2 separate regions of the Homo sapiens genome follow, and region 1 is linked to region 2. Evidence: fine-mapped expression QTL. A gene starts in region 2. The other region holds a variant in brackets. All regions are shown on one strand. Distances are between the middles of the regions.

What was found.
Region 1: its variant is fine-mapped to the expression of KLF5 in monocytes after R848 (Quach 2016, PIP 0.95).

The regions. Positions count from the first base shown.
Region 1 is chr13:72,963,726-72,979,064 of GRCh38, forward strand. PIBF1 (progesterone immunomodulatory binding factor 1) reads left to right here. Exons shown (of 18, transcript NM_006346.4): 15 at 1,549-1,679; 16 at 9,866-9,950. Among named protein-coding and RNA genes, the nearest start is that of KLF5, 88 kb to the right of the region's middle. The variant T/C (reference allele first, on the strand shown) is at 6,615.
Region 2 is chr13:73,052,244-73,067,582 of GRCh38, forward strand. It overlaps KLF5 (KLF transcription factor 5), which reads left to right and starts at 6,762. Exons shown (of 4, transcript NM_001730.5): 1 at 6,762-7,345; 2 at 9,618-10,491; 3 at 11,581-11,640. The coding sequence starts at 7,085. RefSeq lists silencers at 6,506-7,115, 7,436-7,525.

The DNA of each region.
Region 1 (15,339 bases), 89 kb before region 2:
ACTCAGCAACAACAACAAGAAAAATCACAATTAAAATACAAGCAAAAGACTTGGGAAGACTTCTCTCCAAAGAAGATATACAAATGCCCAGTATGCACATGAAATAATGTGCTTTGGCCAGGATGTGGAGAAATTGTAATCAAATTTCTTGCTGGTAGGAATGTAAAATGGTATCACCACTGTGGAACCGTTGCAGTTCCTCAAAAAGTTAAATATAGAATTACCATATGACCTAACAGTTCTACTCCACTTCTAGGTAGCTACCCAACAGAAGTGAAACAAGAACTCAAGATATACAGTATTTGTCCACCAATGTTCATAGCAGCATTATTCACAATAGCCAAACAGTGGAAACCCAAGTATTCATCAAGAGATCAATGGATAAACAAAATGTACTATAAACATACAGTGGACTATTATTTACCATTAAAAGGAATGAAGTTCTGATACATGATACAACATAGATGAACTTTGAAAACGTCACACTAAGTGAAATAAGCAGACAGCAAAGGACAAATATTGTGTTATTCCACTTATGTGAGGTATCTGGAATAGGCAAATTCACAGAGACAGAAAGTAAGATACAGGTTTCTAGGGCCAGGAGGGAGGAGAAAATGGGGAGTTTTTGTTTAATGGGTACAGAGTTTCCATATGGGCTGATGGAAGTGTTCTGGAAATAGAAGTGGTAGCTATTCAACATTATGAATGTACTTAATGCCACTGAATTGTACACTTTTCACATGATTAAAATGGTAAATTTTACATTATATTTTAAAACACATTTGTCAAAAATTTATACATAATGATTTGGATATATAAATTATGTATTTTTAAAACAAGGGAATATGAAGAAATGAAAAAATTATTGAATTATGGTGTGAATATTTTTAGTAGAAGTAAAGCTGAAATAAAAGAGTTTAACTTTTAGCTAAGTGTTTCCATTTTAAAAAGATATATTTTATGTCATATAGCTTTTCAGACCAAGACAAATACTAAGAAAATTTAAGTTTATGCATTCTCAAAATTGCTATTAATATTTTATTTAAAATTTTTTCAGCCAGGCGAGGTGGCTCACACCCGTAGTCCCCGCACTTTGGGAGGCTGAGGTGGGCGATCACCTGAGGTCAGGAGTTCAAGACCAGCCTGGCCAACATGCTGAAACCCCATCTCTACTAAAATTACAAAAATTAGTGGGGCATGGTAGCAGGCACCTGTAATCCCAGCTACTCGGAAAGCTGAGGCAGGAGAATCACTTGAACCTGGAAGGCGGAGGTTGCAGTGAGCCGAGATCGCGCCACTGCACTCTAGCCTGGGCGACAGAGCGAGACTGTCTCAAAAAAAAGAAAACAAAAAAAATTATTGTTTATAGTTGCTATTAAGAATAGCTATATTGATTCACTCTTAAAACCTTCAAATTTACACAGGAAAAGCTTTTCAGAATAATTCATGTCAAAGGAATTTCTGTACTATATTTGTGCTAGAGCATTTTGAATGATTTTATTTTGTTGTCACATTTTCTAGATTTTAATGAAACCTGTGTTTCTTTAGCTTGACAGAGCCAATTCGCTATTAAACCAGACTCAACAGCCTTACAGGTATCTCATTGAATCAGTGCGTCAGAGAGATTCTAAGATTGATTCACTGACGGAATCTATTGCACAACTTGAGAAAGATGTCAGGTAAACCATCTACAAATCTTTTATTTGAATAATAAAGACATTGTTACCATATTGCTGCTGTAGGTGAATTTGGGTTGTAAATCATGAACAGAAAATTTAAATAATGAAGGTGTCTTAAATGTAATGAATATTAAACTTTTCTTAGAAAAACTAAGGTCACATCACATCAGGTGTTCACATTCCACCTGTGATCAGATGTCTTAGCATGGAAATAACAATGTTACACTTATGAGCATAACATTCCATCTATCCTAGAGGACACAACCGCTATTGGTCCTTGTTTCCCTAGAACTCTTTAGTGTGGTGTAGATTGACCAGAGGGAGAGGAGGAATAAAACCAGATGCCATTTGTGTCGTTAAAATGGCTTTTTAAACAACAACAACAAAAAATTTACATTTACTTAGATTTATGTTGATTTTTCCAAGGAATTTTTAGGCTTTTCTTCTGACCTTTTACATGAAAGTAACTTTTAAGTGTAAATAAATAAATTTCTTTCACTTCCTTAATTTGTAATTGTTTCTGTATGAGATCTTATCCAAAAAAAATTTGCTATGACCAGTTTGGTTTTTTAAACTGAAATTAAAGAATGAAGATATGTGTAAATGAAACAGTTTTACTTGTGGATAGATGGTTAGTTTGCTTAGTTACTAGATTTCCAAGATTATAAGAATAATTTAGATTTTTATGGGTAAATTATTAACTGATTATCAATGTAAAAGCAGAGAATTAAGTGGGAATAGAAATGGTTAAATCAAGGAATTGGAAAACAATAAGGAGAAGATGGTTGTTAAATCCAGGTTTCTTAAAGTATGCAAACAAAAATATAAACCTATTGGTAACTAATTCCAAAGTATAAATGTTATTTTTAATGAATCACAGTAATTACCTTCTTTCATTTCTACCCCACCAAAATAATTGGTCTAGAACTTTATTCCTGTTCTTAATTTTTTATGATTTGTTTAAATAATTTAGGAGCACATTTATACCTTAAATGTGTCAAAATAAATAAGTTTGTTTCTAGATTAATTTTAAAGTTAAAAATTCTGTATACAACCTACAATAATAAATTAATTGTTCTATAAATAGTTCTTGGGGACAATAGAAATTATGTCTTTCACAATTCACTGGGCACCTGATTATCTTAGGGAAATTGAAGAAAGAACCCCAAATAGAATTTTTTCCTCCTATGTTACATATTTCTGTTAAATTTGAATATTTTTTGGCCAGGCGCAGTGGCTCACACCTGTAATCCCAGCACTTTGGGAGGCTGAGGCAGGCAGATCACCTGAGGTCAGGAATTCTAGACCAGCCTGGCCAACATAGTGAAACCCTGTCTCGACTACAAATACAAAAGTTAGCTGAGCATGGTGATGCATGCCTGTAGTCCCAGCCACTCTGGAGGCTGAGACAGGAGAATCGCTTGAACCGGGGAGACGGAGGTTGCAGTGAGCTGAGATCATTTCACTGCACTCCAGCTTGGGCAACAGAGTGAGACTCTGTCTCAAAAAAATTAAAATTAAAATTAAATTTTGAATCTTTTTTTTTTTTTTGAAACGGAGTCTCACTGTCACCCAGGCTGGAGTGCAATGATGTGATCTCTGCTCACTATAACCTCTGCCTCCCGGGTTCAAGTGATTCTCCTGCCTCAGCCTCCTGAGTAGCTAGGATTACAGGCACACGCTGCCACGCCCAGCTAATTTTTGTATTTTTAGTGGAGACAGGGTTTCACCATGTTGGTCAGGCTGGTCTTGAACTCCTGACCTCATGATCTGCCCTCCTCGGCCTCCCGAAGTGCTAGGATTAAAGGCATGAGACACCATGCCCGGCCTTAAAATTTGAATCTTTTATATGTCTTATTTTACCATTATTTCTTGTGATGAGGAGGTATATAAAAATCCTGAGGAAAAAAATTACTCCTTTCACAGTTATCTCCAAACAAATTTATTTGATTATTTATTTTACTAAGAATTAAGGTAGCTTAAAATGTTTAATATAGAGAAAATAATAGCTAGCTGTAGGAGAAAATTATAAAGATGAACAAATTCAGCCATAGAGAAATTAAGCAACTTGTCCTCTAAGAACATGCAACATTGTGATAGAGTAAGAATTCAATTTTATATCTGTCTGCTTGCTAATTCTATTCTCCTAACCATTAGGTTATACTGCCCCTCTATGTTCTATTCTGAATAAGGGATAATATTTCTTTAGCTAAAATAATTAAGGAAGAGAACAAAAAAGTAGTGTATCATAGTGATTAAAAGTAGCACTTTAATGAGTTGATCGTTGTTGAAGCGGGGTGATAGATATATCAGGGTTTGCTATTACATATTTTCTCTTCTGAAATATTCTATAATAAAATTTTTTAAAAAACAGATTTTAAAAGGAAGTTTTCAAATTCAACTCAGTACTTAGTTTTGAGTTAGGGCAAGTAATTTAAACTCTCTAATACCTCTGTTGTCCAATAGAACTTTCTATAATGATAAAAATATTCCATATCTGGCTGGGCACGGTAGCTCAAGTCTGTAATCCCAGCACTTTGGGAGGCCGAGGCGGGCGGATCACGAGGTCAGGAGATCGAGACCATCCTGGCTAACACGGTGAAACCCTGTCTCTACTAAAAATACAAAAATTAGCCGGGCGTAGTGGCGGGCGCCTGTAGTCCCAGCTACTCGGGAGGCTGAGGCAGGAGAATGGCGTGAACCTGGGAGGCAGAGCTTGCAGTGAGCCGAGATTGCGCCACTGCACTCCAACCTGGGCGACAGAGCCAGACTCCGTCTCCAAAAAAAGAAAAATTCTACATCAGTGCTGTCCAGTATGGTAGCCACTAGCTAGCCACATATAGATGTTGAGCATTTGTTTTGGGGTTTTGTTGTTGTTGTTGTTGTTGTTCTTTTTTTTCTTTTCTTTTCTTTGAGACGGAGTTTCACTCTTGTCACCCAGACTGGAGTGCAATGGCGCGATCTCGGCTCACTGCAACCTCCACCTCCCAGGTTCAAGCGATTCTCCTGTCTCAGCCTCCCGAGTAGCTGGGATAACAAGCACCCACCACCACAGCCGGCTAATTTTTGTGTTTTTAGTAAAGATGAGGTTTCACCCTGTTAGCCAGGGTGTTCTTGAACTCCTGACCTCAAATGATCCGCTGGCCTTGGCCTCCCAAAGTGCTGGGATTACAGGCATGAGCCACCACACCCAACCTGAGCATTTGAAATGTGGCTACTGTTACTGAGGAACTAAATTTTTAATTCTATTAAAATTAAATTGTTTAAATTATCTTTAATTTTATTTTTAATTTTATTAAAATTAAAGATAATTTTAATTGCCCTAGTGGCCAATGGCTGTGGTATTGCACAGTACAGCCAGTTTCCTCATATGTGAAATGAGAGTGGTGCCGAGGCAGACAGATTGCCTGAGCCCAGGAGTTCGAGACCAGCCTGGACAACATGGCAAAACCATGTTTGGTTTTGTCTCTACAAAAAATACAGAAAAATTTGCCAGTGTGATGGCACGCTTCTGTAGTCCTGGCTACTCAGGAGGCTGAGGTGGGAGGATGAGTTGAGCCTGGGAGGTGGAGGTTGCAATGAGCAACTGCACTCCAGCCTGGGTGACAAAGCAAAACTCTGTCTCAAAAAAAAAATAAAAATAAAAATAATGAGAGTGGTCCTAACAGCACCCGATTGATAGGGTTGTTCTGAGGAATAAATGATATAATCTTCATAATATACACAGATATAATAGTGCCTAAACATTATATTCAACAGTGTTCAATAAATGTTTGCCATTCTTAGTACTTACCATACATGTAACAAATTTTTGGTTGAAAATTATATTAAAAATGAGAAATAACATTTCTCAAAATATGTTGAATTTCAACAAAAATTAAGACTCCCTTAATAACAGCAACGGTTTTCATAAAGGCCATGTCATTTATGGAATTAATTACCAAGAAAAATTTTGTACTAAACATGAGTCCTTTAATGTTGTCTTGTGTTTCATAAATTAATTGTGTGATATTTTAGTACATTCTGAACTGATAATTCACAGGATATGAAATCTTATTCTTAATTGAAGCAACTACCTTCTAAAGTGAAAAGTTATTAATACTTTCAGTAGTTTAATTACAACACTTGAGATGTTGCTATAGGTGTACCCTGGTGACATGAATGAAATGCTGTGATGTAACAATGCCATTAAAAAGTCAGCTCAGCCAGTAATTCAGATATGGTAGGATAGATCACAGTTCTGTATACCCACATTCCTTCATCCCTACTCGAAGCAAATGGCATTTCAAATCCTAGAGTGGAATTATCCTGGGCTTTAAATACACATCAGGCTGGTTTCTCTCCTTATGGTAAATGTGTCTGTAAAATTAGATATTAATATGAACCCGAAGGGGTAGTTGTGAAAATTAAATTTAGGGGCATATATAAAGCTTTGGCATGTAGGAGAATCTCAGTAAATGTTACTTCCCTCCCCTTGTCTTTTATTTGAAATTTAAACATTAATGATGGCCCATCCAAAAGCGTTATCAAGTTATTATGTTCCTTAGAAAACATAAACAGGAAAATTCCTATTCCTCATTGCTAGGTGTTGATGTTAGTTGTAAAAATATTTACATCAATTGATGATTTTTAAATGTTTTTCTAATTCAATAAAAACTCTTTGAAGAACTGAATAATTGTATGCTTTTCTTAGAAAATTAAACAATACCACTATACCATACTTACCCCTTGAAAATCAACTATTTATACAATATATTCAATTTCTAGAAAGGCTAGAGTAAATATTCACTAAAATGAAATCATCATAAACACATTAAAAGCTAACATTTGAGATGTCACTATTAACTGCTTTAAATTCTCCTATCATTAAAGTAATACTTTATTATAAAAATAGTACTGTTAACTTTCTTCCACCAAGCCACAAGAGACACTCTG[T/C]GTAATACAGTTTGATCTCTACTTCAGAAAGGAAGGAAGCTTGGAAAGAGAATAATTAGCATAATTTTCTTTGCCTGTTGTCAGTTCTCAGTTTATTCTTAACTGGTAGTTAAAGATAAGACTACATTGCCAACTTCCCTTACAAAGCTATCCCAGAGTGTATTGATCCAGGAAGTTAAGGAACAATATATCAGGAATGTTTTCGTATTGCAGGTGAAACAGAGCCATAAACATGAATTTCTAAGTAATAATTAACAGTGAATTTAACAATTATGGGTGTAATATACCATTCAAGATAGATGTGCTTACAAGGAGATTTGTTTTGTAGTTGTTTTATGAGTCACTCATAGAAGCTTTGTATTTTCAAAGGTAAGTTTCCACTGTTATGAAATATGTCTTATGAAGACTAAAATTCTATTGAGTAAATACATACTAGAAGAAGAGTGAATATAATAATCATCATATTCAGTTTTAGAGACCCACATGTTAAAGGTTGTCTCCCTGTGGTTCGAGTATATTATAAAGAAGACAAAATATATGCCCAGATATTGTAATCACAGCAATATTGTCTGGGAAGTCCACATTGTTTGTAATAAACTCATGTCTTACAGGTGCAACATAATTGTTCTGTAAGCCAGTTTATCCCCCCACCATTTATTCCATGTATATACGGTTGTTTTGCTATTTAATTATAGAATACTTTATTTTTGAAAAGTTAAAACACGACAATATAAAAGCATTTGTGAAGAATTATCCAGTCAAAATCCTTTAATTACCTCGACATTCCATTCCGATTACACTACATATTCTTTAGAAGAGCCAGTTGGTATTTGAAACAGAGAGTGAGTGTGTGTGTGTGTGTGTGTATGTGTGTGTGTGTGTGTATGCACTGAATGTGAGTATATGCTTATATACCGTGGTTATAAGTGTATACATGTATATGAACATAGACACATACATGTTCCTTAAAAGTTCCTAGTCCTATTTACTGGATATTTAAATTTGAAAAATATTTTGCCTTCAAAGTGATTCCAGCTAAAGAGGTGGTTAGAATTCTAGAGTTAGAGAAACATGTGATCCTTACCATGCTTTGGAGACTCTAGCAGAACATGGCACTCAGTTTCCTTTATACTGTTTTGTTCTTTTCAACTCCTCAGCTCTTGTGGGATCTCTGGCGCCTAACTCTAAAAGTCAGTTTGTTTTTCAGCTGAGCTGCTTACCTTTATTGGCATTTAATTACTGTTTTACTCTGATGCCTATTTTTTTATCTAAATTAGTAACACTGTATAACATTTATATAGTTTTATGAGTTCAACACTTTATATAATCATTCACATAGTCCTTTGACATACATGAGTATTATGTTCTACTTTTACAGATATAAAAACTGAGGTTCAGTGGGGTGGTATGTGTTATGCTTTACAGCACACATTTGAGTCTGAGTCAGTGGCACAGTTGGGAACAGAAGTCAAAATTGCATCTAGTCCGTCTCCTCAGAGGACAAACTATGATGCTTCCTTCTCGATTACTTGGAAGGAGAAGAATGTGGGCTTTCCCTCTTAAGTCCTTTGAATTAGCAGTTGCTGCAGATTGCCTACTACTGTTTCTTGAATTAAAAAAAAAAAAAAGTCTGCCAAATATTATTCTAAAGATTAGTGGCTTTCATTTATTTATTTATTTATTTATTTATTTATTTATTTATTTATTTATTTTTTGAGAGAGCCTCACTCTGTCTCCCAGGCTGGAATACAGTGGAGCATCATAGCTCACTGCAGCCTCAAACTCCTGGGCTCGAGCGATCCTCCTACCTCATGCTTTGATGTAGCTGGGACTAAAGGTGCATGTCTCCACACCTGGCTAACATTTTTTTTTTAAGAGATGGGGGTCTCTCTGTGTTGCCCAGACTAGGCTCGAACTCCTGGGCTCATGCAGTTCTCCAACCTCGATCTCCCAAAGTGCTAGGATTACAGGCATGAGCCAGTGTGCCCTGCCTCCATTTTCTTAAAGTAGAACTTAAGTAGAACTTTAAAAATGTTTTTACCGGCCAGGTGCGGTGGCTCACGCCTATAATCCCAGCACTTCGGGAGGCCGAGGTGGGCAGATCACGTGAGGTCAGGAATTCGAGACCAGCCTGGCCAGCATGGTGAAACCCCATCTCTACTAAAAATACAAAAATTAGCCGGGCATGGTGGCACACACCTGTAGTCCCAGCCACTCAGACAGCTGAGGCAGAAAAATGAGTTGAACCCAGGAGGCAGAGGTTGCAGTGAGCCGAGATCGCGCCACTGCACTCCAGCCTGGGTGACAGAGCGAGACTCCGTCTCAAAAAAAAAAAAAATGTTTTTACCTATTTAAAACAATTCTTGTTAGTTTTACCCTCACAAATTTTGTCTTTTTTATTGTAATCATTCATTAGATAATTGCCACCATGCCAGGCCAGAAATTGAAAATCAAACTAATAATTTGGAGACAAACGTTCTTTTTTCAAGTTTATCACAGACTAAATACCTGATTCACTTACTTAACTCAATTATATACCTGATAATTTAGTTTGTAAAATATTACTTTCAGTTTTAAGGATGTTTTAATTTGTCTTCTAGTATCTTGTGTTGTAATAGTTTGCTGACATAGTACTTCTTACCTTTTATGTGAGTTTCTTTATCTTTTTACATTTTAGTAGTAAATAGTCATCTTTAAAACATTAATTTTATGCCTATACTAGGCAGGAAATTATTCTCAGACAGCATCTCAGTTACGTTGTCAAATGGATTCTTAAGAGAAGAAAAGCTGGGTGCAGTGATGTATGCCTGTAGTCCCAGATACTTAGGAGACTGAAGCAGGAAGATTGCTTGAGCCCAGGAGTTTGAGGCTGTAGTTCATTGTTACCATGTCTGTGAGTAGCCACTGCACTCCAGCCTGGGCAACACAGCAAGACTCCATCTCTTTAAAAAAAAGAGAAAGAGAAAGAAAAGAGGAGAGGGAAGAAAGAAAAGAAAAAAGAAAGGAAAAGAAAAGAGGAGAGGGAAGAAAGAAAAGAAAAAAGAAAGGAAAAGAAAAGAAAAAGATCTTCTGACAAAATAGGCCATTCATTGGGCCAAACATTTTAGTGGCTGGTCTGGAATATTTATGGACTATAAATTTATCTTTAGTTCAAACCATCAGATTCATGTTTATTCTTTTAATATTTACCATTTATTAACTATATTTATACTAACATAATGACTTTTTAAAACTGGGGTTTTTTTTTTCAGCAACTTAAATAAAGAAAAGTCAGCTTTACTACAGACGAAGAATCAAATGGCATTAGATTTAGAACAACTTCTAAATCATCGTGAGGTATTTTTCCTATTTTGTCATAATTGTAATCATTTTAGGCTTTTTTAAAAACTGCTATCAGGTTAAAATTATTGGATCCCAGTTGTGCATGTTCATTAATGACTTCTCTTATTTATGTCTCACTGTAATTTTGTCCTTTTTTATTCAACTTTTGATATACTTCTTAGAGTTAATTCTTATTCCTAGAATAACCCCTTCTTGTTGTGTTGATATCTGTCACTGAATTTCCCCATATTATTTAATAATAATCTGTTTTATCTTATTCTGCAACTAGACAGTTAATTTCCTTAGTGTGCCTCTCGTCTTCTTTATCAATGTATGCCCAGTGCCTGTAGTGTAGATAATTTGTGTTGAGCTTTAAAGTTCATAAAATTATTTTCTTTTCTTCATTTGTTCCCTACCAAAATTCTTTTAGAGTAAATATAATTCCTATTTTATAGATGGAGAAATGAGTTTTAAGTGGCTTGCCCATGGCAGTTAGTAACTAAGAGATAAGTTCTGTTTTGTTTTGTTTTTTTCCTTTAAGGTTTATTGAGTTATAATCTACAAAGAATAAAATTAACCTTTTTTAGCAGACATGTCTGTGATTTTTGACAAATGCACACAGTTGTGTCAGCACCACCACAATCAATATATAGAATAGTTCTATTACTCCACAAAATTCCCTCATTACCCCTTTTTAGCTGACCCTTTTCCTCAACCCCCAGCCCTATCAACCACGGGTGTATTTTCTGTAACTATTGTTTACCTTTTACAAAATGCTATAAAAGTGAAATTATCAGTATATAGCCTTTTGAGTCTGGCTTTTCTCAGTTACAATAATACATTTGCAATTCATATATATTGTTGCAATACAGATGTATAATATATTGACCTCAAGTGATCCGCCTGCATCAGCCTCCCAAAGTGCTGGGATTACAGGTGTGAGCCTGTACATACATCTACATTAGTCATATGTTTCCTTTTTATTGCTGAGTAATAAGCCATTATATGGATGTAACCCAGTTTGTTAATTCATTCACAGTTTATGGACATTTGAGTTGTTTCCATTTGAGGACATCTCCGAATAAAATATCTGTAAACAATTAATGTACACATTTTAATATAAACAAAAGTTTCCATTTCTCTTGGGTAAATACCCAGGAACATGATTACTGCATTGTATGGCAGGTGTATGTTTAAGTTTATAAGCAACTGTCAAAATTTTCCAAAGTTACTATACTTTTGCATTCCCCCTCTACGATGAATGAGAGTTCCAGTTTCTCTGCATCGTCACCAACCATTGGTATTTTTAACACAAAGCCTTTTTTCTACTGAACTATCACTGCCTCATCTTAGCCATCTTTTTACCATTTTGTTATTCTAATAGAAAAAGAAACTTTTTTTTTTTTTTTTTTGGAGACAGGATCTTGCTCTGTCACCCAGGCTGGAGTGCAGTGGCATGATCTCGGCTCACGGCAACCTCTGCCTTCCGAGTTCAAGCGAATCTCTTGGCTTAACCTCCTGAGTACCCGGGATTACAGGTGCATGCCACCATGCCATCTAACTTTTGTGTTTTTAATAGAGACTGGGTTTCGGCATGGTTGGCCAGGCTGATCTTAAACTCCTGACCTCAAGTGATCTGCCCGCCTCAATCCTCAAAGTGCTGGGATTACAGGTGTGAGCCACCGCGCCCGACCAGAAAACAAAACATTTAAAACATATCATTGGTTTATGAGTATCCTGATACTAGTCTGGGAGAGGTATACCAGATGTTGGGAAGAAATTATTGGGAGAATATTGTTGAGAGAGGGGAACTGGAAACTATTACTGGAAGCAGTTCAAAGGTACGTATCCTAGAGATGGTGTCAGAAGAATTGGAGGATTGTCTGTATCTGAGAAATGGCATTGGAGTGAGTTCTCTTAAAGGTGTCTTCTATGTGATGGGTGAAAAGGATGAGAAAGTGTCCCAGGACTAGATTGTAATGATAACATTTAGGAAGGTAAGTCAATCTAACAACAGGTTACAGAGCTAGGAAAAGCTTCTCTGAAGATATTTATTCTTTCTTCTGAGTTCGGACATTCTAGACCTTATCCATCACCGCTGCTGTCACTTATGTCCTAGGATTCTGCTTTCAAGTAATTGTTTCTTCACTGTGGAAACCTGATTCATTCACTATGTGGAATTTTCGCAAGTGTTTTTGAAATTAAATATTTAAGAGTAGTAACTACAGATGACCATTCAGCCATATCAACTACATTTTTTTAAAGCTAGATATTAATTTTTTTTTCAGAATGGCAATTCTCATTTGATTTTAAGGGGATGTGCTACACTGAAAAATATATGAGCAGTTCCAACACTTGGAATCACATTACTCATGAGTCCAAATAAAAACCAAAAAACTTTGCGTGGTGGATTGAGAAGAAAATACGTTTAAGCATGCAAATTAAATTCTAGCAGAGCTGGGCACAGTGTCACACACCTGTAGTCCCAGGTACTCTGGAGGCTAAGGCAGGAGGATCACTTGAGCACAGGAGTTTGAGACTATAGTGCACTCTGATCTCACCTGTGAATAGCCACTGCACTCCAGCCTGAGCAATGTAGTGCAACCCTATCTTTTAAAAAAGAAAGAAAGAGAAAGAGGGAGGGAGGGTTAGAGGGAAGGAGAGGAAGAAGAAGAAGGAAGAAAGGAAGCGAAGGAGGGGAGGGAAGGAGGGAGAAATTTAAACACTAGCAAGATGAAACTACTCATTAATTGCCTACTACTACATGTTATTACTGGTATTTGTATGGATGCATATTTAGATAATTGTCAGTTTTTATGTATTTGACAGTATATCTTTATTTTGGCAAGTATGTTTTAATAATTTAACATTGTATAGCTTTTGATGATACCAAACATCTAAAGAAAAGCAACTTTTTTTGTTTTAAAGCAAAGTAAAAATTAAAGCTTAGTAAAACAAATCTAATGTTATTAATCATTTTCTAAGAAACCATTTACTACCAACTTACATCATATATACACATGCAAAGGCCTCCGCAAATTGCATATATGGAAAGAAAACAGCTGGTGTGACCCCCTAGAAATGCTTGGCCATTCACTTGAACATTTACCTGATGAAACAGGATTGATTTATTCACTTGATTGTTCAGAGGATCATGTCCTCATAATAGTCAATAGATAACATTGGTTAAGAATAATTCTGATTTTTTTTTGAAAATGAAAATCAGGGCTGGGACTAGGGTGAGGCAAGCAAGGCATCTAGGACACATGATGTAAGGAGGTGCCTACTCTCAGAGTGGGCAAAGAACATGGACGGCCCCTGGGAGCCACTGCTTCTTTACCTAAGGCCGCTAGCTTGTCTCACCCTGGTCAATACCCTGGGAAAATTATCTGATACCAGTCTGGTTTTAATCAGTTAAATTTGGACAGTGTAAATGAGTGATTCAAAAAGAGACCAAATGAACTTTTTAAAGTTTCTTATTTTCTTTTTTGCATTGGACAGCTCTTGCTTTAATGTTGTGTTGTTTTGTTTTGTTTTGTTTTGTTTTGTCTTGTTTTGTTTTGAGATGGAGTCTTGCTCTGTCACCCAGGCTGGAGTGCAGTGGCGCTATTTCGGCTCAGCGCAACCTCCACCTCCCTGGTTCAAGCAATTCCCCTGCCTCAGCCCCCCAAGTAGCTGGGATTAACAGGCGCATGCCACCACACCTGGCTAATTTTTTTGTATTTTTAGTAGAGATGGGGTTTCACCACGTTGGCTAGACTGGTCTCAAACTCCTGACCTCAGGCAATCCACCTGCCTCAGCCTCCCAAAGTGCTGGGATTACAGGCATGAGCCACTGCACCCAGCCTAGCTCTAACTTTTTTTAGCAGTGTCACTTAGTTCTGATTAGGCTGTATGTGTTCATGTAATGTGAAGTAAGATCACCAGTTCATTTACATAATTCCAAAATATGTGTTAAACAGAAAAAGCAAGTAGGACAATTCTAGGTTGACAATTCAGAAACATTTGGGGCATGACCACAGAGAGTTTTTATTTTCTATATTAGTGTTAGCTCAAAAATATTAGCTTAAAAGTATCTTCTCTCATGTTAAGAGTTAGGGTGTGGTGTGACAATTTCCAGGAATGTGTATTGATCTCTTACAATTGAGTATTTCTTGAACTATGAGTGGAATATTAGGTGATGTTTAGTCCTAACTTTTTTTGCGAGAAAATATATTCAACAACTAATTTCAGAATGATATAACGTGAAGAGCAGGTGGCCGTAGAGAGAAATAGGATATTTTAGGTTGACTTTTCAGACTACAAAGCTCAACTGGGTTGGGTAAATATATTAGGTTAAAGGATTTACACAACAAATACTAACTTAAAAATGTGCATAAATTGAATTGAGAGCTTATACCTGCCCACACTTCTCCATTCTAAATTCTCCAGGTTTTGTCCCTATATTCAGTAAAATGTTCATAAAGCAGAGGGGGAAAGGGCAAAATATCTCTCCTCACAGAATTTATTTTATTAAAGAACAGTTTAATGTCATGCCTTCTGCTTTTGTAGAAGATCAAAACAAAGTGTGATCTCTCTTGGTTTTGTAAAACTAAGGCAGTCTACTAAGTACATCCACATAAATGACATAATCTAATCTTTACTACAGTCCACTGATAAATATCATTGTCCTCATTGTTAGAGATGAAACTGATGCTGATAAGAGTTAAATAACTCAACTGTGATTACGTAGTCAAAACTAAAAGTAATTCATTTTTTCCCTGAAACAAAACTAAGGTTCTTTTTCCTTAGTCTCATTTAGACAGAAAAAAACTCATGATGAATTATTGCGTATATTCCAGGAAAATTTTTGCCTCTGGGCGTGAAGTTATATTCCTCTTTCTTTTTTTCATAAAATGAAAACTTTGTAATTTAATGTGTTTCCTTTTTGTCTTCATTGCCAGAAAACTCAGAGCTGAATATCTTATCCAGGTGTTATAATCTTTTTTTTCCTCTTTCACTTTTGATACCTCAGAATAACTTTATCTGTTTCCTTCAGGTGGGTTGTAATCTATCTTACTCTAAAATGTCTTCACTTGTACTCGGATTAAGACCTCTTAGGTGTAAATAAAATATAAACCTAAATAATTAGATATTGAAAAGAGGTAAAAGGAAAAGATAAACTGATAGGAACTCACTTTTAGATAACAGTAGCAGGACTTCAAATAAAACATTCATTTTGAAAAGATTTGAGTATAAGAAATGTGATTTCAGGCCCGATGCAGTGGTTCACACTTGTAATCCCAGCACTCAAAAAGGCCAAGGTGGGAGGAACGCTTGAGGCTAGGTGTTCAGCACCAGCCTGGACAACCTAGGAAGACCTCATCTTCACAAAAAAATCAAAATTTAGCTGGGCATGGTGGTG
Region 2 (15,339 bases):
CTCTGTTGCCCAGGCTGGAATGCAGTGGCACAATCATGGCTCACTGTAACCTCAAACTCTTGAGTTCAAGCAATCTTCTTGCCTCAGCTTCCCAAGTAGCTGGGACTACAGGCGTGTGCCACCACACCTGGCTAGTTTCTTCTTTTTACTCGTTGCAGAGACTGGGGTCTTGCTATGTTGCATAGGCTGGTCTTGAACTCCTGGCTTTAAGCAATCCTCCCACTTCAGCCTTTCAAAGCATTGGGATAATAGGTGTGAGCCATCTTGCTGCGCCTCTAGAATATGTTTTAAATATCAAGTTTGTAGACTACCATCCCCACCCTCCTTCCACTTTAATTTCTGAAATCTCAGTAACCAAATTTGGGAATAACTTTTGAACAACTTTATGTTCCGGAAAAGAGAACAAGGCTCTTAGAGAAACAATAGTATGAGCTGGGCATGGTGGCTCAAGCCTGTAATCTCAGAACTTTGAGAGGCTGAGGCAGGAGGATTGCTTGAGCTCAGGAGTTCGAGACCATCCTGGGCCACACAGAGAAACCCCGTTTCCACAAAAAATAAAAAAATTTAGCTTGACGTGGTGGGGCCTGTGGTCCCACCTACTGGAGAAACTGAGGTGGGAGGATCACTTGAACCCAGGAGGCTGGAGCTGCAGTGAGCCATGTTTGTGTCACTGCACTGCAGCCTGAGCAACACAGCAAGACCCTGTCTCAAAAAAAAAAAAAAAAAAAGCGAGAGAGAAAGAAAGATAACATCCCATTTGAAACTATTTCATGCCAAATCTTCTATGTGAGTATTTTAGAATTTAAAAACCCAAACACAAACACCTCTTTAAAGATGCATATAAACTTTACCTGGTTTTAAGAGTCTATGCATTTTGTCAAATCAGTGTAAGCAGCCTATTTTATTTAATATGAGAAAACAGAGCAACAAAGTAAAATGAGATACCCAAAATAACAGAGTAAAAATAAGTGTAGAGGAAGTCTTGCTGATCACTTAGGAAATGAATTAAAGCATATTTATATTTCAGACATTCCCTATATTATCCCTTTTGAACTTCAAACTCCCCTTTGTAATCTCTCTTCAGCTTCTTCATTCTGCAGTGAAATTCCTGAAAATCTAGCAGCTTGGTTAAGAAAGTTTACATGTTTTCCCAGTACAGAGTATTGGCAAGTTGTAGGTACACTTTACTGGCTTCAAATGGAAAATCATTTGATCATCAACTACTTCAGTTCCAACTAACCCTTAGCTGTAGAAAGGTAATATTTATTTATGTTTTCATTTAAACTATTTATTCTGATTACAAATGGAATACATAGCAATTGTAGAAAATCTAGAAAATACTGAAAAGTATCCAGAAGTGAATAATGACCCATAATTTTTTTTTTTTTTTTTTTGAGATGGAGTCTTGCTCTGTCACCCAGGATGGAATGCAGTGGTGCAATCTCAGCTCACCGCAACCTCTGCCTCCCGGGCTCAAGTGATTCTCCTGTCTCAGGCGCCTGAGTAGCTGGGATTACAGGCGCACGTCACCATGCCCGGCTAATTTTTTTACTTTTAGTAGGGACAGGGTTTCCCCATGTTGGCCAGGCTGGTCTCGAACTCTTGACCTCAGGTGATCTACCCGTGTTGGCCTCCCAAAGTGTTGGGATTACAGGCGTGAGCCACCGCGCCCAGCAGTAACCTATAATATAACCATCTAACGAGGGCCACCAAAATACATCCATGTTTGGTATTTTCTTTTCATCTTTGTGGGTACATATTTATAAAACCCCTTTCTTTGACTATACATAGCATGAATGTTTTCCCATGTCACTAAATGTTCCTTAATAATAAGAATTTTTCCCCTTTTTTTCCAACTACTCAACTTTTTGGTGGCATAACAGTAGCCATGGTATGGATGTATTGCTTAACTACTCCCCTAATGTTGGACACCTAACCTAGGTTATTTCCAATTTTATTTTAATTTAAATTAATTATTATTATTTGAGACAGGGTCTTGCTCTGTCACCCAGGCTGGAGTGCAGTGGTGTGATCATAGCTCACAGTAACCTTGAACTCCTGGGCTCAAGTAATCCTCCTGCCTCAGCCTTCCAAGTAGCTGGGACTACCGGCATACATCACCATGCCTGGTTAATATTAAACATTTTTGTAGAGATAGGGTCTCACTATGTTGCTCAAGCTGGTCTCCAGCTCCTGGCCTCAAGCAATCCTCCCATCTTAGTCTCCCAAAGGGCTGGGATTATAGGTGTGAGCCACCATGCCTGGCCCAATTTTATATATAAAGATATATGTGTGTGTGTATATATATATATATATGTGTATATATATGTGTGTGTGTGTATATATATACACATACACCTTTCCTAGAAGAGGAATTATCTATCATTTTCAAAGTTATTTACATTTTAGCCTTTTTCATACTTATTGTCAAATTGTCCTTCCCCAAAGTTTTAAAGTTTACACAACCATCAACAGTGTATGGAAGTTAAGGCATGAAGAACTCACATTGCTTTTAGCACTACTTTTACACACTTCATCTATAAATCAACATCTAAAAGAGTATTTCCGTGTGACCCATGCACGGTTCATTTGAGCATTCACAGGGTGTTCCCCACAGCCTGGTACATTACAGCTTTTGTCATAACATGAACAGCAATCGGCTCAAAACACTGCCCATTGTGATGCTGATGATGAGACCTCCCTAATGTTCTAAAAGATTGTTTGGTGTAACCACTTTAGCTCAGACCTTTCTTTTAACCTTGCCTATCATGTTTCGAGTCAGAATTTAAATACTGTGCAGTTTAAGCTACAATACGCTTGGCCTATAACTTGGTTCCAGGCATTTATATTTATGTCACTTTTGTCTACTTATTATACTAACAAGGTGGAAAAAGCAATCCCAGTCTCTCCAAAAGGTAAAACTCTCCTGTTTTTTTGGATATTATTAGAGTTTTAAAATTAGGCTAGATAAATTATAGTACCCTTAGGAATAAGTGCATAAAGGGAGTTTTATGAAATATTTTAAGAAGAACACATTTAAAAATCCAAACTGAAATATAAAATGTAATTTCTTAAGAACTGGAGGCAAGAGACATTACAAAAATAAAATATTAAATTGTTGTCTTAAGACATAATTTTAATTAATATAAATAGAAGTATTTAGTCTTATTTAAACTGCATATTTTTTCATCACAAAAGCAATGAACAGAGCATCTTCTCTCTTGTCTCGTAATCTTTTGAGTCAAAATGCTTTAAATTCCAACTAATCTCAGTTGAAGCTTCTATTTATCAGGCTATTTCCTTAATGACTTTTTTTCTGATGTGTGGCTTTAGGTGGTTGCCATTAATGAAAAAATACAAAGACTACAGATGTGAAATGTTGGAGAGGACAATAATTACAATAGTTTTAAGTTTTCACTGATACAGATTCTAACAGGGGTGTGCAATCAATGACTACCAAAAAGTCACTTTAATTAAATAATCTTACCCTAGAGAAGAGTGTGCTCCCGTATAAAGCTTTATTTTTCATTTTTATTCTTGTTCTTTTTTCTGTGGCCCAAGATCACTTGGCAATTTGATACTGATTTGGCAGAAATAAATATTCTATGAATATTTTTCTACTCAAAGTGAATACAGTTTTGTTGGCTGTGATACTCTATACCTCTTAATTTCAAGCTGTGACGTTTTTGCCAAACAACTGAATTTAGATTTGCCAAACAACTGAATTTAGATATTCCTTTTGCCGTGTCGTTGTGTGAACATTGCCCTAGTGATAGCTTCATATTTCCCTCATCTCATCATTCAGAAGCTATTTATCTATTTTTTTCCACTGCCTCCTTCAAACCCCCTCCCCCAACATTGAATGCCTGTTCAGCCCCCGCATATTCATCCGTATTTATTCCCGTAAAGATAGTGACACTTATGGTTTATTCTAAGACTAAATCTGTGTTGCCCAGTGACTAAGGACTTAAGCATGCACACTGCTTCTATGCTTACCCTCCTACCTAACTTGACTACTCAACATTTTTATTTCATTCCCTCAGAATCCCCTGTTTTGGCACAGTTCAGTTAACACACCACTGCCAGGCCACTAATTGATTTCTGAAACCTGACATTTGTTTTTTGTTTTCTCCTATCTTCCCTAATGGTACAGCACTACTAAGCGGGAAGGAATGCAAAGAACTAGAAAGTTCAAAGTAATTGAGGATCTGTCCATTCACACTGTCTGGCTTCAAGCCAATGTAGAACCTGGAACATTTGAAAAATATTTATCAAGTTTTAACCCTTTTTACTAAGTCGGTGAAACAGGTTTGCAGCTGTAGCATTTATGTTAAAAGCAACAGCAAGGAAACTTGGTCGAACATGTTCTTTATATGTTCAGAATCACATGGCAAATGTCTCCGAAAAGGATTACTTTCCAATTTCCGTACTATTGTACAGTGCTAAGCTAGTTATTTTCTGTGAGACTGCAGAGCAGGGCATTTCAGAGAAACTATTACTTAAAAGTGGCAGCCCTATTTCATGAATCTTTATGCCCAAAATGGAATTTTAAAACCTGCTACTGTATTGGAGCAAAAAGGAATATATTCAGTTACTATAAGAACCCCAACGCTAGCTTCATATCTATATTATGAAAAGTGGAAATATGAAAAATTAACAAGACTAAAAATATTAAAAACTTAGTTGTATGGTTTTTTTTTTGCAATGAAAAAGCTTTTGTAAATGAAAGCATGTTAAAAAGTGGTGTGAAATTATAGAAGCATTTCCAGTAAAATACATGGATTTTATTGCAGTGAAAACTTAGGTTGAAAGACCGGGCCACTGAAGCTCTCGTAAAAAGACAAAAGGAAAGGTCTAGATAGGTTTAAAAGCACATTAAGATACAGCTACCGAATGTATTAAATCTAAGTTAGATTTAGCTTAAAGTTACAAGAGCACAAAAGTTCTATTAAGAATTATCTACATCACATTTAGGTTTGATGTTATCAGAATTAAGTAACTAAAAATCTTTCAAAGCTCAATTTTTTAAAAGAGTTACATTAAATCCCATCCTAATTCTATAATCTGTTTCTAAGCTAATTAATTACATGATAGGTTTTACATTAGAGAAAAGCAGGACAGCTTTTTAAAGATGAAGATGGACAGCATGGGGCTGCTTGGTTAGAGAAAAACTTGCAAAAGCACTTATTAAATAATACTTTGATAACATGAAAGTAGTCATCAGCCATTCTCTGAAGGCAGTGATCACAGCTATAAAAATGAATCATGTGTCAACAGGAAGAGAAGGAAAAGGAGAAAAACCCAGTTTACAGCATAATTTTATATTTTCTAATAATAAATACATTTCTTTATGTGCATATTAATTTTCTACCCATTGAAAATGAGATCCATACCTTTGATAGATACACTCTTTGAAGTGAACGTTTTTATCCAAGACTTTTTTTTAAAGCTGTTTTACTCTGAAGTGATGAATAGGCTGTGGTATATGTAAAACTGTCTAATGGTATATTGTGTGTCAACATATGTACATTTGTAGTAATATCACAGGCATTTTTATTGCAGTTTATTGTTCCGTCCTCCCAATAAGCCAGATAAAATCATGTACAAGAACATTAAGGATTAAGGGAAGTGGTTTCCTTAGGTGATTGCTGGCAAAAATTCACCCTCCCATTATAACAACATAGTAAATGGATGGTAATATATTTGGCTATTACTTTCCAACAAATTTGGATTCCCAGTTTTCAGAGCTGCTCTGTGTCTATGTTTGCGGCTTTTTGATTGTCTCTTCGTAGGAAAAGGTGCCACAATGTGAGGTAAATGTGCTAGGTTTCTGCTTTGTAAATATTAAAGTCCATTTTTTGAACATACAGTGCTAGCAAAAATAAGTCAAAGATGTAATGTCTATTTAAATACACGTTTGAGCTAGTCGTGCTTAAATTAGATTCCATGCTTCGGCTAGAATCAACACGGCTTAAATATTAGAAACTTCAAAATTCATATGGCCCAAGCCCTCCTCCCCACACACGGATGGGAAGTAGAAATGTGTGGGAAAACGTCTAGCAATTAAAATCCTGAAGGAGTGGGAAAAACCCAGGCTTTTATGCAAGGATCTGAAAAAACGCTTGCCATCAAATCTTTTATTCAGGCATTCTGAATTTGCCTTGTTAAACGGATACACTCACTGCTAAAGATACACAGGGACAAGAGCTGTTTTAAATTTGTTTATCACACCGCCCCTAGTTTTCTGCTAAAGAGAAGTACATTTTGGATATTTAAAAGTACACACTCATTAGACAAATCTCTAAAAGCCTCAGCGCCCCTACCTAGCTGCCTTCTGGGTTTCAGCTTTTGAGTTTCAGGTCCTTGCACAACACCTAAGACGTGCAATACTCTTTTTCTTCCTAATCCTGGCAGAGAACAGTGCGAAGAGATCTCCCTCCGCGTCTCCACCCTAATTCCCCCTCTTCCCAGATTCCACCCGCTCCGCTACTTCCCTCCGCCCCCGGCTCCGCCAGCCCAATCTGTCAGAGAAGTTGTGTACAAACTGCGCGGCCGCCCTGCGCGCGAAGCTCGTGGCCCGAGAGGGGTGCGGTCGGGCCGACGGAGGCGGGGCCCTGGCTGCCTCTCTCCCTGCTCATAGGCTGGCCGCTCAGGCCTGGCCGGCCTCGGGGCCTCGGGATTCGCGGCGGCGCTGCCAATCAGGCGATCGGGCCCCGCCCCCCCGGAGTTGGGTGAAATAGAGGCGGGCGTCAAGTGTCAGTAGTCGCGGGGCAGGTACGTGCGCTCGCGGTTCTCTCGCGGAGGTCGGCGGTGGCGGGAGCGGGCTCCGGAGAGCCTGAGAGCACGGTGGGGCGGGGCGGGAGAAAGTGGCCGCCCGGAGGACGTTGGCGTTTACGTGTGGAAGAGCGGAAGAGTTTTGCTTTTCGTGCGCGCCTTCGAAAACTGCCTGCCGCTGTCTGAGGAGTCCACCCGAAACCTCCCCTCCTCCGCCGGCAGCCCCGCGCTGAGCTCGCCGACCCAAGCCAGCGTGGGCGAGGTGGGAAGTGCGCCCGACCCGCGCCTGGAGCTGCGCCCCCGAGTGCCCATGGCTACAAGGGTGCTGAGCATGAGCGCCCGCCTGGGACCCGTGCCCCAGCCGCCGGCGCCGCAGGACGAGCCGGTGTTCGCGCAGCTCAAGCCGGTGCTGGGCGCCGCGAATCCGGCCCGCGACGCGGCGCTCTTCCCCGGCGAGGAGCTGAAGCACGCGCACCACCGCCCGCAGGCGCAGCCCGCGCCCGCGCAGGCCCCGCAGCCGGCCCAGCCGCCCGCCACCGGCCCGCGGCTGCCTCCAGAGGACCTGGTCCAGGTAGGAAGAGCCGCTCCCCTCCCACCGCAGCACTCCCGGGCTCGGGCGTGTCCCGTTGCTGCGACTCGCGGGCGACAGGGGCCGCTCCAGGCTGGGGCGTGCGTCGGGGCGCACCGGAGCCGGTGCTGGGTGGGCAGCCCCGCCCTGCACGCCTGGCCGGGGCCCCGCGTTTCGCTGAGAGTAAATGGGGGGGGGGGCCGGGGGTGGGAAGGATGGAGGGGAATCTGCCCCGGCGGGTCGGCCTGGGAGAGGTAAGAGGGAGGGAACTGGGTGCTCACGCGCACCTTAGTTGTTTTTCTTACACTTGAGGGACGAAACCTTGTACCTTACGCTCAGTTTTACTTAAATTACGCCTTCGCCTGTACCGCTCTCCAATGCCAAGGCATTGGAGCCCTCCCCCCCATCCCCATCGTCTCGGGTTAAGTAGAAACGCAAATTGGGGTGCTGGGGAGAGGTTCCCCAAGGTTTCATACCCGGTGGCTCAACCTGCTTTAGAAGCGATTGCGGGCCGCGTTTGGAAAATGAGAGTTAGGAAAGCTAAGGTTGTGTCGGAGCGCTTATTTTTCCTTAAAAAAAAAAAAAAAAAAAAAAGACCGGGGGTGTTGTTTTCTTCGTGTGCACGTAAATTTCCTCCCGGAGCCGCGTTGAAAGCTGGCAGTTGGCTTTTACACTTGCCCAGCAGCCGAATTAGAGCAACCGCCTGTTTCTTTCGCCCACGCAGGGAGTCATATAGCCCAGAAAAAACTTCCCGGGACTTTTAGCCTGTCCCAAGGAAAAAAAAATTGGAAACATACCCACATGCAAACAGCTGGAAGAGCTAAAATCAGAAACCACTAACCGCCGCGGGAGCGCAGTGCACGAAAGGGTTTAGTTCAGTTTATTTCAAGACACTTCATTTAGTAGCTCTTTGGCGTGTCGTATATTTGCTACCCAGCGCCTACTCCGTGGGGTCTGCCAGGGTCTTGCTGTGAGAGGGCAGTGGCGTTTGTCAGAGATGTGACTCACATGATGAGAGCGTTAATTTTTATTTTTAAATCATGTCTATCCGGGAAACCCCGTCCGCATCCACACCAAGGTCCGAGATGAAACGCATTTGAAATGAAGTAGTAGCAGAAAATGACTGTCTTATTTACCTGTTAAGGTGCCACAGCTAATATATGCGCCATTCCATCTAGTTGGTTTTCTTATCTTTCGAAATTTCCTTTTCAGTGTTAAAAAATGTAGGCTTAAGTTATACTAGGAGAGAAGATAGCTGGAAAAGGCTTGAGGCGACTTGTTACAAGCTGGTTTATAGCCTAGAAAAGAGATCACCGTTTGAAAAGTATTTGGTTATTTCAGTTTGTCAATTTTCTGCTCTGGAGGCACTAAGAAGATAAGGGATGACTGAGCTTTTTACAGAGTAGGGGGGAATGTAGCATTGGCCCACTGAGAAGGACATGATAAATGTTTTGCTGATGACTGTGCTAGGGATACAGCAGCCTCCCCACCCACGGGCTCCTTAGCAGCACTCTACCAAGGGAGTGATTTTCCCCTAGGTAATTAAAGATCTGTTTTAGATAGGGATATGAATAGGAACATTTCATTATCATATTAACCAATTACAGGATCTGCTGATGAAAATCAACATTTAGATCAAATATTGAATGTGAAATTGTTTTGTTTCAGTGGATACAAGGTTTTGCTTAGAACGTTGTGTTTAATTTCTCATTGAACTGTAAACAAGAAAAGACACTGAAATAGCCAAATAATATTTTTATATTACTTTTGAAGTATCTAGTCAAGAAAAGAAACCTGTGCAATATTTTAAAGGTTTGCATCGTTTTTTCTATTAAAAAAAACCACGCTTTTTAATGTTTGTGACTTAAACAGAATTGAGGTAGTTTGGCAACATTTCAATACTGTACTCTAATTGCAAACTTAACTGTGTAATGGGGCAGGGAATCCTGCTTGTACAGGGGTGATGGTACCTTGTTATTGCATCAGAATGGAATGTTTTAAGTTTGCTTTCTTTTTTATTCTTGATTTGCGTCTTTCACTTTTGGGGGTGATTGGGGGAGCAGTTTTACCAGTTACACAGAGTTTCATAAGGTTTTGGTCAACCAGTTATTACACAATCGACAAAATAAGCCTGATATGTTTATAAGCAACACTGAGGAGTTTGCCCTAGTACCTTACACAGGGATTGGGGGAATTTTTAGTAGGCGCCGATTGTTCGTTCTTCCCGAGATGGTGAATCAGGTGGATTATGCATTTTATATCTCTTCTTTTTTAGACAAGATGTGAAATGGAGAAGTATCTGACACCTCAGCTTCCTCCAGTTCCTATAATTCCAGAGCATAAAAAGTATAGACGAGACAGTGCCTCAGTCGTAGACCAGTTCTTCACTGACACTGAAGGGTTACCTTACAGTATCAACATGAACGTCTTCCTCCCTGACATCACTCACCTGAGAACTGGCCTCTACAAATCCCAGAGACCGTGCGTAACACACATCAAGACAGAACCTGTTGCCATTTTCAGCCACCAGAGTGAAACGACTGCCCCTCCTCCGGCCCCGACCCAGGCCCTCCCTGAGTTCACCAGTATATTCAGCTCACACCAGACCGCAGCTCCAGAGGTGAACAATATTTTCATCAAACAAGAACTTCCTACACCAGATCTTCATCTTTCTGTCCCTACCCAGCAGGGCCACCTGTACCAGCTACTGAATACACCGGATCTAGATATGCCCAGTTCTACAAATCAGACAGCAGCAATGGACACTCTTAATGTTTCTATGTCAGCTGCCATGGCAGGCCTTAACACACACACCTCTGCTGTTCCGCAGACTGCAGTGAAACAATTCCAGGGCATGCCCCCTTGCACATACACAATGCCAAGTCAGTTTCTTCCACAACAGGCCACTTACTTTCCCCCGTCACCACCAAGCTCAGAGCCTGGAAGTCCAGATAGACAAGCAGAGATGCTCCAGAATTTAACCCCACCTCCATCCTATGCTGCTACAATTGCTTCTAAACTGGCAATTCACAATCCAAATTTACCCACCACCCTGCCAGTTAACTCACAAAACATCCAACCTGTCAGATACAATAGAAGGAGTAACCCCGATTTGGAGAAACGACGCATCCACTACTGCGATTACCCTGGTATGTGCTCTTACCTGGTTGAAGCATCAATAGATGTAGTGTGTGTGTGTGTGTGTCTGTGTGCGCGCGCGTGTGCGTGTGTGCACGCGCGTGCCCTTTTCAACCTCATGGCTTTAAATAGGAAAGTTGTACTTGACAGTAAAAAAAAAAAAAATTACCTTTTTTTTTTTCTCTATCCTATCTCTGTGCTTTAACTTTGGTATGTAAACCAGTTAGTTGTCTGTTGCTTATGTTATGCATCAAAAACTTGGCTAGAATATTCTGGAAAAAGTTCCCTTGGATTTTTTTTTCTTTAATATTAAAACAGATTTGAATTTCTAATACATATTATTTCGAGTTAGGCCAGAGTTACTTTAAAATGGCAATTGAATAAATTGCAGTTTTTAATTCTAAATTAAGTGCCCCAGAAAGAGATTAAAGTAGGGTGGGGGAAAATAAGGTTTGGTGGTGAAGTGGAGGTTGCAGGCAGCTAGCTTGATGTTAGGTACAAGACTGTCTACAAGACAGATTTAAGAATGGTTTTGATGGCACGTGAGCATATGCTCAGTTTTGAATGACATACATGGCCCAAAGTATAAGTTGAAGACAATACATGGAATATATTTACAAGTTACTGGGAAAGCTAGTTTATGATTAATACATGGCAAAATTTATTGACTCTGATACATGATATGGCATGACGTGCTAAATGAAAAAAGAAGAAATGTGGGAGTACAGAAAATTACAGTCATCTTGGATAATGGCTTAGTACTGTCAGCTCTAGAGCCATTAAAATTTTTAAAAAAACATATAGCAGCTCTTAATACGGAAGTACAGCACCTACTGGAATATAAACACAAATTTTCCATTTGTAGTTTGGCTTGATTATCTGTATTCTTTCCTGTTAAAGTGATACATAAAACAAATCACTTCATGCCTTTAATAAGGTAATGGGGGAGGGCTCTTTAAAACTTTTAAAACTGAAGCTTCAAATAATCTCATCTAGCATGAGAGATTTCTTCTTTAAAGCCAGATTTTAAACACTGAATCATCAAATGTAAAGATTTCAAAAGGATCTCCAAAATGACATGCTGTTCTCCTTTATTTTAGGTTGCACAAAAGTTTATACCAAGTCTTCTCATTTAAAAGCTCACCTGAGGACTCACACTGGTATGTAATTTTCTTGTTAATTCTGTGAGTTGTGTAAATAGTGTAAGTGGTATTCATCCTTTTAAAAGCTAACACGTGTTTGATCTCTTCTCCTGTCAACTTTGTTTTTTTTTTTTTTTTTAAATAGCCTACCTTTTCAGCACAGGCTTGGTTCAGAATTCAGTTCCATGAGAAATCTGGTTCCAGGAAGGCCGGTGATGTTCCCTCACTAAGGCCTTCTTGCCCTGTCACCGCTCAGAGTTGATTACCCAAAAATGTAAACAGCGATGTTTACTAATGGATTTTAAAACTTATACTGGCAGTGTTTTGAAGGAAAAAAAACAAAACAAAACTCATTTTCTTCCATAGCAAATAATTTTGCTCTGAGAAAGCCATTTTAAACTCTTAAAAACTTTCCCATTTGGAGTGTACTGCATAATTGGTGAAAACGTTAGTTTCACCTCTAGGTTAAAATATCTGTGTTTAGTATGTTTTCTGTGCTTGATGAAAGGTAGTGCTGAAATTGCAGTGTTAAAATCAGGTGGTCAGAAATGGGTTACAAGCCCCAGCCTAAACTTGGTATGTGTGAGAGACTTGATCTTTATTCTAGCTTACATTCATTCTTGTTTACATATGCTTTTAAGTTTAGCTCCTCTACTTTTGTATTTGCTTTGTTCAATCTATAGCAGTCACTTTTTTTGAGATGGAGTCTTGCTCTGTTGCCAGGCTGTAGTGCAGTGGTGTGATCTCAGTTCACTGCAACCTCTGCCTCCCAGGTTCAAGCGATTCTCCTGCTTCAGCCTCCCGAGTAGCTGGGATTACAGGCCCCCACCACCATGCCCAGTTGATTTTTGTATCTCTAGTAGAGATGGGGTTTCACCATGTTGGCCAGGCTGGTCTCCAACTCCTGACATCTTTATCCACCTGCCTCGGCCTCCCAAAGTGCTGGGATTACAGGCGTGAGCCACCGCGCCCGACCAGCACTTTTAAGAGCTTTTAAACTTTAAAATTATATCAGAAGCCATTTTAAGATGAAACCAGGTGGCATACTTTAAAGGCCCCCCAAATACTCCAAATATTGTCAAATATATAGATGGTTACTATTTGCGATTTTCTTAAAAGAGCAGCCCTAAAGAAAAGAACTTATATAAAGTGATTGTGTTTTTTTCCCTCAATAAATACAGCCTTACCTAAAGTTCAGAGAATAAGTTTGCTAATAAAAGCAATGACCTAGCAAAATGTATTATTCCATCATTGCTATGGAAACCAAAGTATTCAACAGTTCCTTTGAATGGGTTGTTGGATTAGTGTGAGGACTTGAATCTCCCGAGGCTAGATGTTACTATGGAAATTGAGTTTTGATAAATGAAGTAGTTATCTCTAACTGCTGCATTAAAAAGTAAAAGCCTTTGAACAAAGGTCAGTGCTGAGGTAGAGCCCTAAGAGGAATATGGTTGCAGACATTTTGTATGCATGTTAGGAAGCATTGCTTGATATCCCAGTGATAAACACTACTTACTAAAATCCGATGACAATGTTGTAGATTCCAGGGCTTTTTGAGAAACTGCTTTTAAGGAGAAGGCATCTTATGTATTTATCTATGAAATGAGCGGGCTGTTTTGGCCTGAGGTTTTTGCATGGAGACAAACTGATTACATAAGAGGAAGGATCCTTCATAGGCAGCCCAAGGTAGAAATTTTTATAGTTAAACACAAATGAATTAAGCATGTTATAAAAACTCCAACTTAAAGTTTTCAAAATACAAATGACAAGTGCCAGGAAAATATTCCATGTAGAAATACCAAAATGTCCTTTTACAGAATATAAATGGAAATATAAAGACATTTGAACTATTGTTTTTTTCACTTTTGGAAGTCCTTGAGAGATAGGAGGGAACACATTTTCCTGGGTTTAAAGTCTCCTAATAAAAGAGCACAATTGCATATAACGATGTAATCAACTACTTATTGCAGGGATGTAGTCAAACCCATATCTGAATAGCCTTTCACCCCGTCAGGGTTTAGTGCCCTGAATGCTTATACCTGCGATTCAGGAACTTGACCTGCCGGCAAATACATTTAATCGTGGGTTGTCTTAACAATGCTTGTACTAATAAAAACAGACTGAAAAGAAGACCGAGACCTGGTTTGGGTCCCTTGCATCAGCTTTTTCACCTGACCATAAACATTGTGGCCTTCAACATCTAATGAATGAGAACATGTAATCCAGTTTAATAAAGTTTTGTTTGATAGTCTTTCAAATGCCTTGGGGAGGGTTTGTAGCAGACTTGTTCATCTGGCTAAACCTGTTCTTGGGTAATCATAGAGCATTGAGGTTGTTTTCTCCTCATTTCTCATTTCTAGACAATGCCTTTTAAAATTACCTGTTCTCTCATTGCATCCTCCCCACCCTGCCCGCCTGTTGTTTTTAAATGAATGTATCTGAAGCCAGCAAAGGTGTTTTTTTTTTTTCTTTCCCTTTAAGGCCCAGGTAGAACAGTTAGGACAGTTTTTCTAAATTACTTCTCTTATGTAATAGCTTTTTTTGGTTTTCTTTCTGTCCTCCTCCTCCCTCTCGGACCGTTGATCAGAGGACTTTAAAAACCACACAACAGTTGATGACATAAAATACTCTTTAAATGATTGTCGTTTTACAGGCAGAATGTGAAGCACCCTAGCATTTCTTTGGAAAATAATTGTAATTGCTTTAAAATGTCAAGTTACCTTATGTTTTAAAAATAATTTAGGCAATGAAAACAGCCTACATCTGAGTTTAATTACTTCTTCTGGATTTTTAGATTGGAAGTGCTTCTTTAACTTGGGTTGCAAATTGAACCTAAGCAAATAATAGTCTTAACAAAATAGAACTTTTTAAGTAATCTGAGATGACAGAGTAGATGATATATCAGTTTCTTAAACCAGAAGTATAGCATTCAAGTCTTCTAAGTTCATATACTTTGATTTCTTTATCAGGAAATCGCATATAAATAATACAAAGTTCTGTCTTCTTTGTGTGATTAGACAATACTGGAAACATTTGCTTCTATTCTAGGGAATAATTATATTTTATTTATATCTGTACATACATAGTATAGCATAAGGCCTGTAGAAGCACCCCTTATAGATGTGGATGTTCGCATGTATTATTTGTAGTATGTGTGTGTATACATTTATCATGCCTTTGGTGAGAAATAATTATGGCTGCTTCTAGGTAACAATGTCAATGAGTGGTGTATTTCCAATTCAAAATATTTGTACTTTTAACAGCATTTAAATGAACATTGTACTGAAATTTGTATGCCTCATGATGTCTACAAGGGGCGGAACACATTGCTATTACTCTAAAGTTGCTCCCAAGTATACTGTTTTGTCTTTATAAATCAACATGACTGATAAACTGTCTATTGCAACCAGTATTATATGCTCACATACCTTACTTTTTTCTTTAATATAATGAACATTTAAAATAATGTCTAAGTTTGCAAAGGTTTGAGGCAAGTTGAAATCAGTAGGAAAATATATTGACTGTATCTTCAAACAAAAATTTGTAGAAATTTAAAAAGTTCTTACCAGAGAAAAAGTTCTGAAAAAGTAAACCATGAACTCAACACAGATGTTTGAAGTCCTAGCGGTTCCCTTCATGTGCGTGGATATACACTTAACCTTAGAGAATATGGAAAAGCTGTTGGGAAATCAGGGTACGGTAACGTTTCTAGATTTT